Linked DNA regions of Homo sapiens: region 1 is linked to region 2. The links come from fine-mapping of genetic effects on gene expression. Tissue or cell type: whole blood. Region 2 holds a variant in brackets; the other region holds the start of a gene. All regions are shown on one strand. Distances are between the middles of the regions.

Evidence for each region. PIP is the estimated chance that this variant, and not a neighbour inherited with it, causes the effect.
Region 1: EIF2S1 starts here. The variant in region 2 is fine-mapped to the expression of EIF2S1 in whole blood (TOPMed, PIP above 0.99). The same link has a PIP of 0.9 or more in blood mononuclear cells.

What each region holds. Positions count from the first base shown.
Region 1 is chr14:67,356,773-67,363,875 of GRCh38, forward strand. It overlaps EIF2S1 (eukaryotic translation initiation factor 2 subunit alpha), which reads left to right and starts at 3,556. Exons shown (of 8, transcript NM_004094.5): 1 at 3,556-3,684. ATP6V1D (ATPase H+ transporting V1 subunit D) reads right to left here and starts at 3,032. Exons shown (of 9, transcript NM_015994.4): 1 at 2,886-3,032. The coding sequence starts at 2,926. It also overlaps a transcript of GPHN not described here. RefSeq lists enhancers at 2,143-2,929, 2,772-2,991, 3,012-3,811.
Region 2 is chr14:67,382,830-67,389,932 of GRCh38, forward strand. EIF2S1 (eukaryotic translation initiation factor 2 subunit alpha) reads left to right here. Exons shown (of 8, transcript NM_004094.5): 8 at 486-3,687. The coding sequence ends at 611. It overlaps PLEK2 (pleckstrin 2), which reads right to left. Exons shown (of 9, transcript NM_016445.3): 8 at 5,395-5,473; 9 at 4,155-4,627. The coding sequence ends at 4,500. It also overlaps a transcript of GPHN not described here. Among named protein-coding and RNA genes, the nearest start is that of PLEK2, 26 kb to the right of the region's middle. RefSeq lists a silencer at 6,463-6,757. The variant C/T (reference allele first, on the strand shown) is at 3,076.

The sequences.
Region 1 (7,103 bases), 26 kb before region 2:
GTCTCACAAGAGGTCTTATCAAGTGAAGGTCGTTTAGTTTCCAGCCTGAGAAGGAGCTATCCATCTCAATGTGTGCATTTAACATAATGTATTGTTGATAGTAAATACTAGAACTTGGGCTCAAAGAGCTGGATCAAATTTAAGTCAAATTGTAGTACTGCATATTCCAGCCAGTTTATAGTAAAAGGTAAACTGGTTGATAAAATTGAATTTACCATGTTAATTTTATTTTCCTCCTAGGGAATGGCATCTTTGTGAAATGGGCAATTTTAATTCCTGAAACTCTAAGAGCAGCGTGCACACTTACAGCTAATATGTAGCAGAACCTGGATTTAGTGGACTTCTGTTGACTCCAAATTTTTCATGCGTCTTTTACTTCCACTCTACAATTGTTTTTGCTTTCTCTGGTACGAAAGTGGGTGAAAGTAACATCACAGAATAATACTGTTGAATGGAAATGTCTGTGAAACAAGCTGCCAGTATATTTTCTAGCCTATGGCTTTTAAAACTTGCTCCTTTACATGTTTCAGAGCTGCTCAGTCCTACTCAAAAAGTTTGACCTTTAGCTAGGATGATGACTTTTCTTCCAGCTGAATCAAAGACATCTGACTACATGACAAAAAGCCTGCTGCCAGCCATGGGGAAAATATTTAGAGAAGAGATTATTTCCTGCACCTGATTTTCCTCTCAATCAGCAAGCTGAGAGCTTTCAAATAGTAGTTTCACCTTCATGAGCCTATCATTTTCTTACCTAAGCCCAAAGATGTCTATTTTTGCCTCTTAGTCTCAAAGTAAAAGTTTCAAAGTAAAAACAAAAAAGTTATTCTGACTGCTGTCAAAGATAAACCCAGCCAGACATTCGTTAAAGTAGTGAAAACAGATTTTATTCAGTAAACCACTGATAGTAGGGGAAAGGGCTGAGCTCAATTCTCATTTGTGCAGAGGTGACTGGCCATTTTAAAAAAGAGAGTAAGGGAGTGGCAGGGAGCCAGCCGCAAGAAGAGTCAGAGAAGAGAAACCTTAAAGTGTTGGTCAGTGTAAACGCCATACTACCTGGCAATTAGTAAGTTACTATTCTATCCTCTCACACAGACTGGGAGACAAAGCCCCTATCCCTCCTGATGATTACGTTTCAAAGAAATGGCTCTCAAAGATACTTGAAGGGACACTTCAGAGTTGGAAGAGATACATATTAACAATTGTAAGCCTGTTTCGTAAATGCTCTAAAAAGGGAACGAGAGGGGTCTATCAATTAGGTGTTGACTAGAACAAACAGTAAATTCTCCCCCTAGCTTTGAGCTTTTTCAGGCAGGCATTTTAATGGCGGGGGCGGCGGGGGGCGGCCTGGGGTCACCCTAGGGGCAGGCCTTACATTGCTAGAAGATAAACTAGTGTCGATGTCTTTCAGTGCAGAAGTTTTGACTGAGTCATCACGTCCTAGGAGTTCTGCAGTTGTCACTACCTCGGGATAGTCCTCATCTTTATTTCCCCACAACTAGCTTGCTGCCTACTTAGTGCAAACAGCTATTAGAAAGTCAACAGGTGAAGGTAAAAAATTTAAAAACTTCATTTCATTAAGAGCTATTTAGTCACCGGGCAGAAAGAAATCTGGGCTTCAGGTTTGAATATAACTTTTATTTTAAGCATCCTCAGATTCTCTCAAAGGACAGAATGAGGAAAAACAACAAAACACCCCCACAGAGATAGGACCACAATAAAAGGGTCTAAATGTCAGGGTCAAAACTGATTTTCTGCTTCCTCACTGAAAAGAAAAAGGGAAAGCCAGGCGCGGTGGCTCCCATCTATAATCTCAGCCGCCAGGGAGGCTGAGGCCGGAGGATCACTTGAGCCCAGGGGTTTGAGGCTGCTGTGAGCTCTGATCATACCACTGCACCCCAGCCTGGGAGACCCTGTCTCTTATTAAAACAAACAAACAACAAACTAAATAAAAATAAACAGGATGAGGAGGAGAAAGGGAGCAAGTTGTTAGGCACATTTGAGAAAACGTCAAAATTTTCCTTACAAACTAGCCAAACACCTACAGTGATATGCCATTTTCCTGACAAAGAATTCAGGCCCCAAAAGAAAGGCAGCCCACAACTGAGCGTATTCCCAAGCATGAGTTCTTTCAAGAAATATTTTTTTGTGGACCTTCTATGGATTAAGACACTCTTTCATCCTGGAGAGAGCCCACAGTCTAGTGGGAGAGAAAGACACATAAACAAATATCTACTTTACAGCGTGATGACCGGTATTAACACAGGTCTGAACAAGGTGCAGCGGTGAGAGAGCAAAAGCAGTGCCTCAGAAACACAGGGATATCCTCTCACAGCAGGTGACATTTGGCGGGATCTTGGAAAATGAGTAAGGGGATCCAAGATCGAATCCGAGGGCTATGCTAGGGCGATTCGATTCCATCCCCACTTTGGCTTAGGGACCTCTTCTATATCCTCAGTAAACTTCCCTTCTCAGAGCATTTATTAAAACCTCCTTGGCCTTTCCAGACGAATGTCTGGCTACGTAAACTGTGAGCTCTGTAGGGCAGAGGTGGCGACGGTTCAGTTATATAAATCCAGTGCCCGGCTCAATAAGGGTATGTGGAATGGATGAATCCATTAATGAATAAAGACAGCAGACCTCCACAAAAGCCCGCCGGCCGGGCGCCTTTTCCTACCGGCTGGGATCGCTTCGTCCAGCCTGATTCACTCAGGAGGAATGCGCGAAGAGGCCGTCAGGAAGCCTCGCCCTAGACTCAAGAAAAGAACCTGGGAAAAGCTCAGGATCCTCCCAGGAAACAAGGACCCTCACTGTGGCCCAGGGTCTGAAGGGACCGCGCTCCGGGTTCCTAAACCTGTGAAAGCGGCTTATCCCATTCCTTTACTTACATTCGCGAGGGAAAGATTTCAATTCGGTCTTTGCCCGACATTCTGACGATAACTTTTCGGCTCGGGTCCCCGGCCGGGCAACCGAGGCTGCAATAGCTCCAGAACTGGCCTCCACAGTGTCTTCCTCTACGGGAGTCAGCTGGTTGTGTCACTTGACCCCTCTTGTTGCTAAGAGGCAGCAGGGACACCCATTTTCACTTCCGCTTCCGGTTGTCACAGGCGACGAAGGGGGAGGACAGAACAGAGGCGTTGCCCGGATGTCGAGGCGCGCGCACCGCGGAACCACCCCTCAATTCCGGTTCGCCTCCCAACCCCTCCCCATCCAGCTTCCCTGCGGCTGCGCAATACGCGGCACGCGCCAGGCCAAAGACTAGGAGCGAAGCGTGCACGCCTTGTCTTTCTCCACCTTTCGTCTTTGGTCACAGCGCCATCTCATGGTTAGCTGAAACTTTGAAAGAGGATTCATTCTTCAGAGGCAAGGAATCGGAGTCCTATGTCTTTCTCGCGCCTTGAAGGTTACTTAGCTAAAGCTAAGATAGCGAGAAACAGTACTTTTCAGGTCCTTCCATGATCTACATTCGTCCTTGTTCTCGGAGGACCCAGACTCTATGGTTAATGATGAAGAGGGGCCTCTATTCGTTCAGCGCTTGCGCATGCGAGGAGGTTCCGCATGCGCGGTGGAGTGAGCGAAGCGCACGCTGAGGAGGATCGGCGGCCGGTGAGGGGGAAGCAAGTCTGGTCTCTGTGATTGAAGAAGTCGGCTCTGGGCTCCAGTGCGGGAATCACACACATACCTCAGGTGACTAATCCCAAGCTCGGTTTCTCCAGGAACTCACTTTGGTTTGTGTCCAGTGACATGGGTGTTCGAGAGCGGGTAGGCCCCGGGCTAATACCTCCCTTTCCCGTCCCTGCGCGGGAAGTGGCTGGACAGCACCGCCACCACCCGCGCTGTCGTGGGCCTCCTCGCCGGCTCCGTGTAGGTCATCCTGTGTTCCAGAGGCATCGTTGTTCGAGCAGAGGAATCTCGTGAAGGAAAGTGGGCCGAGTGGATTGTACAGCCTCTACAATATGCCGAAAGTGAGAATGCCATGACGATGGGGCGGTCTCAGGAGAACGCTGTGACACCGTAACTCTTAACCCCGGCTCAGGACGCTGAGCACTTTGCTTTTTCCAGGCTTGAGAATTCCATCTTTTCTTCCGCCCCAACAGCTCTACCAAAAATTTCCCCTGCGTCTCAGTGGAAACCAAACTGGCCTCTTACCTGAGAAACCTGTGGGACGGGCACCGTGTTGGAAAGAGCGGGGTCCGAGTAGTTTTTCATCTGATAATTGAATGAGTCACCCCTTGAACCAAAACTAAATGAGACTTGAGTTTATTACTGTTACTATCAGTTTGTCGTATTTTGGCGACAATGAGAATAGAACTGTGTTAAGCATATGTTAGGTTAACTATGTTAGTTAAGCATAACTAAAACCTAAGATAAGGATATATTTTCGGGTTAAATACACAGTCATGCTGAGGTCTCTTTATCCTCAAAACTTAGGCTTTTTAAATTTTTATTAAGCAAAAAACATGGTTTCTTCGAGAAAAAGTATAGCAGAGAAGTCTTTATTTCCCCTCAATTGAGTTGTTATTCAAGGAACAATCTCTGTCAATAGTTTGGGGGTGACTTGTACAGAACTTTGCTACCTATTCTTAGTTCATCTGGTGCCAAAAGATGTAGTTGTCTCATGCACAGTAATGTTTGTAGAGATTCGGTGATAACTTTCTTTTTCAACTATAATGATGAAATAAAAGCTTTACTTATGTAGCACTCCTATACCAAGAACTAGCATTCAGAGAGCATTCCTAATACGTGTTAGATCCAAATTAGAATTATCACGAGAGTTGTCCCCATCACATAATATATTTTGGAAAGGAATGTGAACTTCTATATCCATTATAGCAGTTTGACCATGCACTGTTTTGAGAAAGAAGTCCTACCTACCATTTGTCATGCAAAATAACTGACTATGCAGGGTATTTGAAATTAGCCTGGAGTTTGGTTGATATATTTTGAAAGGTGGCTGATACTTTTTACATCAGAACACATAAGAGTATTATAGCATGTTGTGATATTGAGGTTCTGTGGGTTAAAGACATTCTGGATTTGATGTCGGATTACTTGAGTTTAGCTCCTACGCTAGTACTTATTAAGCATTTGTTCTTAAGGAAGTATTATAATTTAGTATTTCTGTTCCACCTTTCCTGTTCATTGCTTCACTGTGCCCTTTCATAGTACTTTGTATTGTAATTATTTGCTTGCTAGTTTGTTTCCCACTCTATACTTAATTACTTAGGTAAGAGTCTTTTTTTTTTTTCTTTTTTCTTTTTTCTTTTTTTTTTTGAGACAGAGTCTCTGTTGCCCAGGCTGGAGTGTAGTGGCACGATCTCAGCTCACTGTAGCCTCTGCCCCTGGGTTCAAGGGATTCTCCTGCCTCAGCCACTATAGTAGTGGGATTACAGGTGCCTGCCACCACACCCAGCTAATTTTGGTATTTTTAGTAGAAATGGGGTTTCACCATGTTGACCAGGCTGGCCTCGAACTCCTGGTTTCAAGTGATCCACCCGCCTCGGCCTCCCAAAGTGCTGGGATTACAGGTGTGAGCCACTGCGCCTGGCCTGGTAAGAGTCTTTCTTGTTGTATCATTAGTGCTTAGTACATAGTAGCTACTGAAAAAAAAATTAACAAATTATTATATTACAAAATGGAAATACCTTCTTTTTCTTTCAATATTTTATGTTTGACTAGCACATAATGGTTTTCAAAATGTTTTTACGTATACATGTGATACCCTCAGTAAACCTGTGATGTACATGGCACAGATGAGAAACTACAGTTCAAAGGATGTTATCTTTCCCAAGCAGCCACTTCTAGTAAGTAGCAGAGCAAGGACTGGAACACAAGGCTAGAGTTGTTCCCCGAGTTTACTATGTTAATTGCCTGATTTGACACTTCTTGAGGACCAAATAAAATAAGAATGCTGTGAAAAAGATAAAGAGGTGAAGTCACCTAGTGTGACTTCGATATTGCGGAATGATTTTTTTAAGTTAAAAAAAAAATTTAAGTTATTAGCATTTCATTAGGCAATATGTTCAAAAATTGTCAACCAATATGCAGGTTTTTGTGGTATGGATTCTTTTTGTACTTAACTACTATCTATCTTTACTATGAATAACATACCATCAACAGTATTCCTTTACTTACCCTTTATGTTGCAAAGAGACTTGTGCCTCCTGAAGAAATAGTATTCATAGTCATATCCCTTCAGGATTCTCTTACATGATTGCCCATGTTTTTTAACCATCAAATTAAGCCTTGCTTCCCCTAAAAGCATCACCTTTACTGTTTGGAGAAGCTTGGTAAGTAAATGTGGTTTTCACTGGTCAAATGTCTTGCAACTGTTCCATACATTTCTGTAACATAGTTTATTTTTATGCCCAATTTGAAACTTTTTAGCTCTCAAATTTGAGAGCTTTACATACACATATTCAACAACAGTTTCCCCACCCCCACCCTCGAAAAGCCCTGTTTAAAAACGAAACAAACAGTCAGCTGTTTCTTGGTGGGTAAGGCCATTGAATGTCTACTTCTCTTTATTTGCTAAATCCCTATTTTGTAGGGATTTTGTATTCCCTACAAAGAAATACATCTCTGCTACTGTCATTAATATGCTGCTCTTTGTTGTCAAACAGATGAGTACTAATAGTTTGCACTTATTGGTGTTATGTACTCTGGCACTGAATATATATTAATGTTGCTTTTTAAGTAAAATGTTTCTAATTATAATATATTTATGAATAGTTTTGAGAGAATATAGTCTTACTGATAAGAGGACAGACTCTGGATCCAGACTTCATGGATTCAAATCCTGACTCATCACCTGTTAGCAGTATGTGAAAGAACAAGTAACTTAACCTGTGCTTCAGTTTTTTAATCTATAAAATGGGGAGAACTAGGGAGAAAGTTGTACCACAAGGAGATAGGCAATGGCCAGATCATATAGGATTCTGTAGGTAGTGGAAAGATACATAAGTCAGTGGGAAGCCACTGAGAAGATATAGGCAGGTGCCAATTAATAAGTTATTATATGAATTTTCACAAGGTTTTCTTAGGCCTTTAAGTTCTGTTACTACCTACGTTTTGAGCAGTGACAACAGTGAAGGTTAACAGAAAAA
Region 2 (7,103 bases):
CAGAATTGGAGAAAAAAAAAGTTGTCTCCTGTCTTTTCCTTGTCCAACAAGAAAGAAGTGTGTGTACGTGCGTGCGTGCGTGTGTGTGTGTGTGTGTGTTATGGTTCCTTCTATGGAAAGGACTAGTAAGCTAGTAAGTAGTAGTTTGAGCCTGGAAGACAGGTTTTTTTAACAGGATATCTATTTGTGGTCTTGAAAGATACAGCCATTGGGGTTATTTCATGTTTTCAGTTTTAGCTTATAAAAATGACAGAAAATAATTTTCCATTTTAATACATACATCCTTTTTCTATACTATTCTCATAAGTTTCACCTCTTATTTATGTAATGGAATTTATTGCTGATAAGTCACTCAAAAGTGAACAGATATGACAGAGTTGTTAGAAAAGTGTTAAAGAGAGAAAACATTAGGCAGTAATAGTATTGAAATTAAATTTGTATAGTATTTACTACTTCAGTTTGAAATTATACCTCTGCTTCCACAGCCCAAAGTGGTCACAGATACAGATGAGACTGAACTTGCGAGGCAGATGGAGAGGCTTGAAAGAGAAAATGCCGAAGTGGATGGAGATGATGATGCAGAAGAAATGGAAGCCAAAGCTGAAGATTAACTTTGTGGGAAACAGAGTCCAATTTAAGGAACACAGAGCAGCGCTTCCTGGCTGTAAATCCTAGACTTGAAAGTTTTCCAGTATTGAAAACTTCAAAGCTGAATATTTTTTATTTCTAAGTATTTAAATGTTCTAACAGATCAGAACATGAAATGCCCTCCTAAATGTCAGCTGTTGTCACACAGTAGCTCCAACACTTTGAGCATTTTTAAGGGAGTGGCCTCATTTCACTAGAGACAAATCTTTAAGAATAGTTCTAAAATTGGGCTTGTGATTTCCATTTCTGATGTCTCCAGATTGGCACCCCTTTCTAGTTCAATGCCTCACGAGATTTGCCAGGGGCATCCAAGGCAAACAATCCCAATCTTTCTATATAAAATGTATTCAAGCAAACATCAAATAAATTTCTGGGATATTTAACTATAGGCTTCTTCCTTCTTGTCACCAGTTAAAAGCATTTTAATACTAAGACCCTAATTCTTTTATCTTTATTTTAGTCTTGATGTGGAACTGTAGGAGCAGGTGAATAAAGGATCTCTATAACAGATCCTTTCAAAAGAAGAGTTTTAGAGAAAATAAATTTAACTTTAACCACAGTGAAAGTTGACCCTTAGCGGGACAAAGCCTTAAAATGCATTGAAAGAATTAGATCGGTTCTGTGCCTTTTATCTATTTGAGATTGATGACAACCTGTGTGAGAGAATTTATCACACCACGTCCTTATTGGAATAATAAGCTACTTGCCTTGAGTTTATAATTCAGGGTGGTAAAGTATGTTTTTAAATTTTAAAAAGCAGCTGCATTTTTTATTTAGTTGGAATATCACCCAATTTTTTATTTTTATTGCTATTAAAATATCCACTAGATGCCACCTAGAGCTCCAGTTCTTTATAACAAAACAGGGATCTGTTTGAACACTTACTGTTGTTTTTTTTTTTTTACATGTTTCCATCATTTCTGTCTTTAAGAACTAATTCGTACATAATAAGTTTCATAGGTAACACATTATTTGAAGTTACAGCTACAGTAGTCAGGTGTAGAAAATCTTGAGTTGCTTTGGTCTGCTTGTCTTCATAAATTTATTCTCTTATGATACTTGAGGTACCAGTTGTATTTAATTTTATTCATTATCCCTAGATAGCTATTAAGATACTTAGATTAGACCTAACCCACCATAGTCAATCCAAGACTAGACTACTCAATATTAAAGGGTCTGGAAAATAGAAGAGTGTGTTGGGCAGGTAGTTTGTACCATTTATGAAGGTTTGTTCCTTTGTTAAATTTAGCAGCCTGTACTAGCTTTTGAAATCCAGAAGTTTTAACTTCCAGTGGCTGGTTTCTGAGAGAGTGCCATGATTGCTAGCCAGCATTCCATATTGGGAATATGTAGAGGAGAACCTGGATGTACTTAAGAGTGGCATATAATTTTCACTTCTGTCTGTTGAGGCATCAAAAAAACAAGTTTAGAAAGCTGGCAACATGAAGAATGCATTCAAAATATAACAGGTGCTTCTTTGTTGTACGCAGAGGAATTTTTTCTTTTGATTTTGTTTACTGAAATTTGTTATACTTCAAAAGCCATAACTTGAAAAATACTGGTGGCGTCGATGGTGAGTGATTTTTATCCCACGTGGGCCTTTTGCTCAGTTCCATGGCAATTTTGTAAATTGACCCTAGCCAGAGAATAGATCAGTATTTCACTGATACCACGAGGAAAAGAACAAACAAAACTTAAAAGTATTCATACACCTTGCTAACCTAAAAGACAGCAGGGACAAGATACATATGAGGACAAGGTATACACCCAGTTCTGAATAACTTGAAGAACAGGCTTGGCAAAGAAGTAAGTTTATCCAAATCTTGAATTTCTGCCAGGCATGGTAGCTCATGCCTGTAACCCTGGCACTTAAGGGGCCAAGGCAGGAGGATCACTTGAGGCCAGTGAGCTGTGATCACTCCAGTGCACTCGAGCCTGGGTGACAGGGCAAGACCCTGTCTCAAAAAAAAAAAAAAAAACCAAAAATCTTGAATCTCCCATCAAAGCCTTTTCATTAAAAATACAATTTCATCTACTCCCTACTGTACCTTTCACTGATGTCAAGTGGCTATCAATTCATATAGCTGAAAATTAGTGATAGTTTGGGTCTCATTTATGCATAAATTAATTGAAAATCAGTAATGGCCAGGAAGAAATATGAATATTCAAACCACTTTTTTCTTTTTTTTTTTTTTTTTTTGGCAAATGGTGTTATATTGCCTGGGCAGGTCTCGAAATCCTGGGCTCAAGCTATCCTCCTGCCTCTGCCTCTGTAAGAGTGTGAGCCACCATGCCCCACCCAAACCATTTTTCATATCAGTTATAGCAAAACAAGACAAACCAGTTCTTAATAATGTTCAAAGTTGGACCCATAGAGACATGCTAAGCACTACATCATGCTAAGAAGAACAGTTATTACTCAGCTGC[C/T]ATACTTCAGCCATTCTACTTTTACACCAAGAACAAAATGGCTAGAGATTTTTTTAAAAATACAAATGCCAGTACCTTGCCGAGACTTGTTCACTGATTTGCCCCAACCCCAAGGTAATGGTCATCTACTTTGCAACCTATGGAGATCCTGATAGCTCCCATACAAAGTGAGGTACACTGTTGCCAATTTGGAGGCAGGAAGCCATCAAACTAAACGTAGTTTAATTCAGATGAACACCTATCGATATTCAAAAGGCAAAACAAAAAAACTAATTCCAGGGACATTAGACCTTGGTGAAATGCCAAATGGAAAATGGTGCTTTAAAAGGTAGTCTCTTACCATATAAGGAATAAGTAAAACATTAGCTTGTGATTTCTCATTATTCAGGTCAATGTTTTAGACACGACTAACAAGGGACAGTTCAAACTATTAAAGAGAACAAATTTTTACTTAAGCACTTTGAGGTATCCACTCCCCTTAAATGTAAGTTATGTATTTTATCTGTTGATTAAGGGGAGGTCCAAGCATTTGTACTTGGCAGGAATGCTGGCAATAGCTTGTGCCAGATTACTGTATAAACTTGAAAGTAATAAAAATGTTCTTTAAAAGTATTGTATGATACAGACTTTTCACTACAGATTAACCTTCCAACTGGTGAAGTTTCTTGGTACCTATTTGTCTCAGCTTATATTCATTTTAAAACCAAAATTTAATGCCTTGATATAAATCTTCCCCATTTACATCTTTTTCTGTCCTTTAGAGCGCTCTTACTCTGCATTGCTAAATGCCCATTTTTCATAGAAAAGCTATGTAATGTATTTTTCGTATACGTGATTATGTTCTCCGACAGAGTCCATGACTTCTGTAATGTATAATATTTATGCAGGCTTGTTTTCTAAAGCAAAACAATATTCTCAATGTACAAAGTTTGGCCACCATCCCCACTTTAAGATGAACTATGTCTTAATGACAGAGATACTTGAAACGTTGCTCGAAAACTATAAACTTTGTATGGGATTCTAATAGCTAGAAACAAATTGTCAGCTTTTACTAATTCCAAAGAAGTTAAGAGAGAACCTCATAAGAAGAGAGTTTTATTCAACATTATGGCATGGCCAGTGTAATTGTTCCAACAAAGGGAACCTACTTTGGTGCCCGAGGAAATGGCTGTTTGTGATGCTGGGGAAAAGTCAAGATGCTGACGCCTAATGGCTGTTCTAGCCTTTCCAGGTTTGTAACATGAAGATGGGGAAGGAAATGGCACCACTGCTGTTTGTAATCTGAGGAACTCTTGGCAGCATTCACTCTCCAAAGCAGTACAAAACTTACAAAGAAGTCAAAAGTCTTAACACTCCCATTCTCCAGGAACTCTTGTCTGTGTCATCTGGTAGGAGGGAGGAATCCTGGTTCCCTCAGGTCCTTGTCATGTTAGCTTTTTGATAGCTTCAATCCACTCGGCTCGCTCAGCCTTGCTGCTGGCCTGAATGTAATAGTGTGTGTCATCCTTAGTAATCACTTTGAAGAGGTTTCCCTGGACATTCCCTTTAACCCCTAGGCAGAAAAAAGGGGGAAAAAAATCAGTGATTGAATAGCCATGTCTGCTTTCATCTTGAACCAGCAGAAAGTCAACTGAGACATGGACAAAAACATACAATGATGTATTTATTAAATAAAAGGTTTACAGTTAGAGAATCCTATCAGATGAGGTCCCCTTTTCCTCCCATTCCCTGTCCCTCACCAGTGCCCTAAGGCCTTCCAATGGTTATGTCTGGATATTCCTGGAAGCCCTCTTGCCTGCTCCCTATGCTCAAGATGGTAGCATGCCATAGATCTACCATTTCATTTACATCAAAGAATCCAGTATGTTTATGTTAAAAGCAAGCATAGAATTTGGAGTTTGATCTCAAATTGTTTAACTTATTGGAACCCCAGTTTCCACAGACACAAGATGGGAATAATATCTTCTTACTATGGCTGGCTATTGTGAAATTAGTATTATGATACATATTAAGGTATGTTGTTAACCCTAAAGCATTGTGTAAGCCTCACCTATTATTTTTAGGCGGAAGCTTATGGGCCATCAGCACAGAAACTGAGGGGAAAGATTATTAACATAAGGATTACTTAGTTGTATTCTTAAAACGCCAAGAACATACCCTTTGTTCAATTCTGAAATTCACTTCAAAACTCACACCACTCTGTCTCATGGAGAAAGCCCTGCTCGGCTCCCAAAGCTGTCATTTCATTAGTGGGACATTACTGAGGTGCAGGAGGGAGGCCCCTGAGATCTTCAGGCCAGGGCTGAAGTTGTACCTTACCAGTGGGAACGCCATTATCTTCCAGAGCAGACACGAGTGAACCACGAAGAGAAAACCCACCCACTGGCCTGTTCTCTTCCTGTAGAGGAAAGGAGACCCAATTAGGAATTTGTGAATGAACAAAAGGGAAGAGTTGCACTCCCCTTACAACTCAGGCCAGCTAAAGAAGTGAGTGCAAATCATTTGTAATAGAAGATGAAGCTGAACTTGGACATCACATGGCCAAAGCTGCATGCATCAGTAAGGAAGCTTGGGCCTCTTCATTTCACAGCCAGCAGCAGTAGTGCCCATCAATGTTGCAGTTACCAAGTCTCACAGACTTGCAAATCTGCTTTTCATTCCTGGAGATGTCTCAAACAGAGCCTCTGATCCAATATGCTACCCGGAAAAACATTCACTGGCTTCCTTAACCCTTGTGTGCATCTTACAAAGCAATCAGAAATATATATTTATAGTAATCATTTCTTTTTTTTTGAGACGGAGTCTCACTCTGTCTTTCAGGCTGGAGTGCAGAGGCACGATCTCGGCTCACTGCAACCTCTGCCTCCCAGGTTCAAGCGATTCTCCTGCCTCAGTCTCCCGAGGAACTGGGATTACAAGCACACGCCACCACACCTGGCTAATTTTGTATTTTTAGTAGAGGCAGGGGTTCATCACCTTGGCCAGGCTGGTCTCAAACTCCTGACCTCAAGTGATCTGCCCTCCTCAGCCTCCCAAAGTGCTGGGATTACAGACATGAGCCACTGCACCCAGCTATAGTAATCATTTCTGCAAAGTTGATAGATTCCTGCACATAGGACATCGTTACACAAATCTAGTATGTGCCTAGCAAGAAACTTCGTGTGATACAAAACTGCGATTGGTGGTATCCCTGGACGATTCAGGGCAACTTTACACACCTCGTGCCTCAGGCCCTAGGAGCCCTTCAATTAATCAATAATCAACTTCATACTGCATGTTGGGCCCAGCAAGAGGTAGGGCAAAAAATAAAATGGTTAAATAAAATACTGGAAATATTTGTACTACTAAATGCCAACGGGAGGAAAGTTCAGAGAAGGAAGGGATCCGCCCCAGCCTGGAGGGTTCAAGGGCAGTCTCAGGGAGGACAGGAGAGTCCTGTCCTGGATAGGAGAGTAGGTCCCCAGGACAGGAGAGGGGCATTCAGCCTAAACAGGAGGAAGAGTGGGAGTAAAGTGCGGAACAAATTAATTGCAGAATGCTTTTGAGATGGTTCCTTATCTTGTACCTGCAGCCCAGAGATTTGGCAATTCTTTTATTTCCTTTGCACACTTGCTTTGAGTAATCTCTTCTGCACTGTTTCCATCTATGTATGTATATGAGCATTTGTGCATGTGTACATATATATGTATATATGTATATTTACATGTATATGTATTTATAGATAGGTGTGTATAGGCACGTATGTGTGTGTATATATTTTCTCAGTTTCCTATTTTAAAAGCTGAGACAGCAGACTCATCAGGGGCACAAAGAAAGTAGGTTAGGCTAGACCATGGTGAGAGTTAAATACAAAACTAAAGTGTTTTTTTTCTTTTTTTTTTTTTTAAGTGTTTTTTCATTTGTTTATTTTTTCCTTGCTTCAAACAGGATTTGAGGTAGCCAGAAAGGAAGGAGTTTGAACTCCATCCTGTAGCCAGGCCACCATGCCCCACAGAGAGGTCAACTGGAGCTTTTTGGAGGCTCCTCCT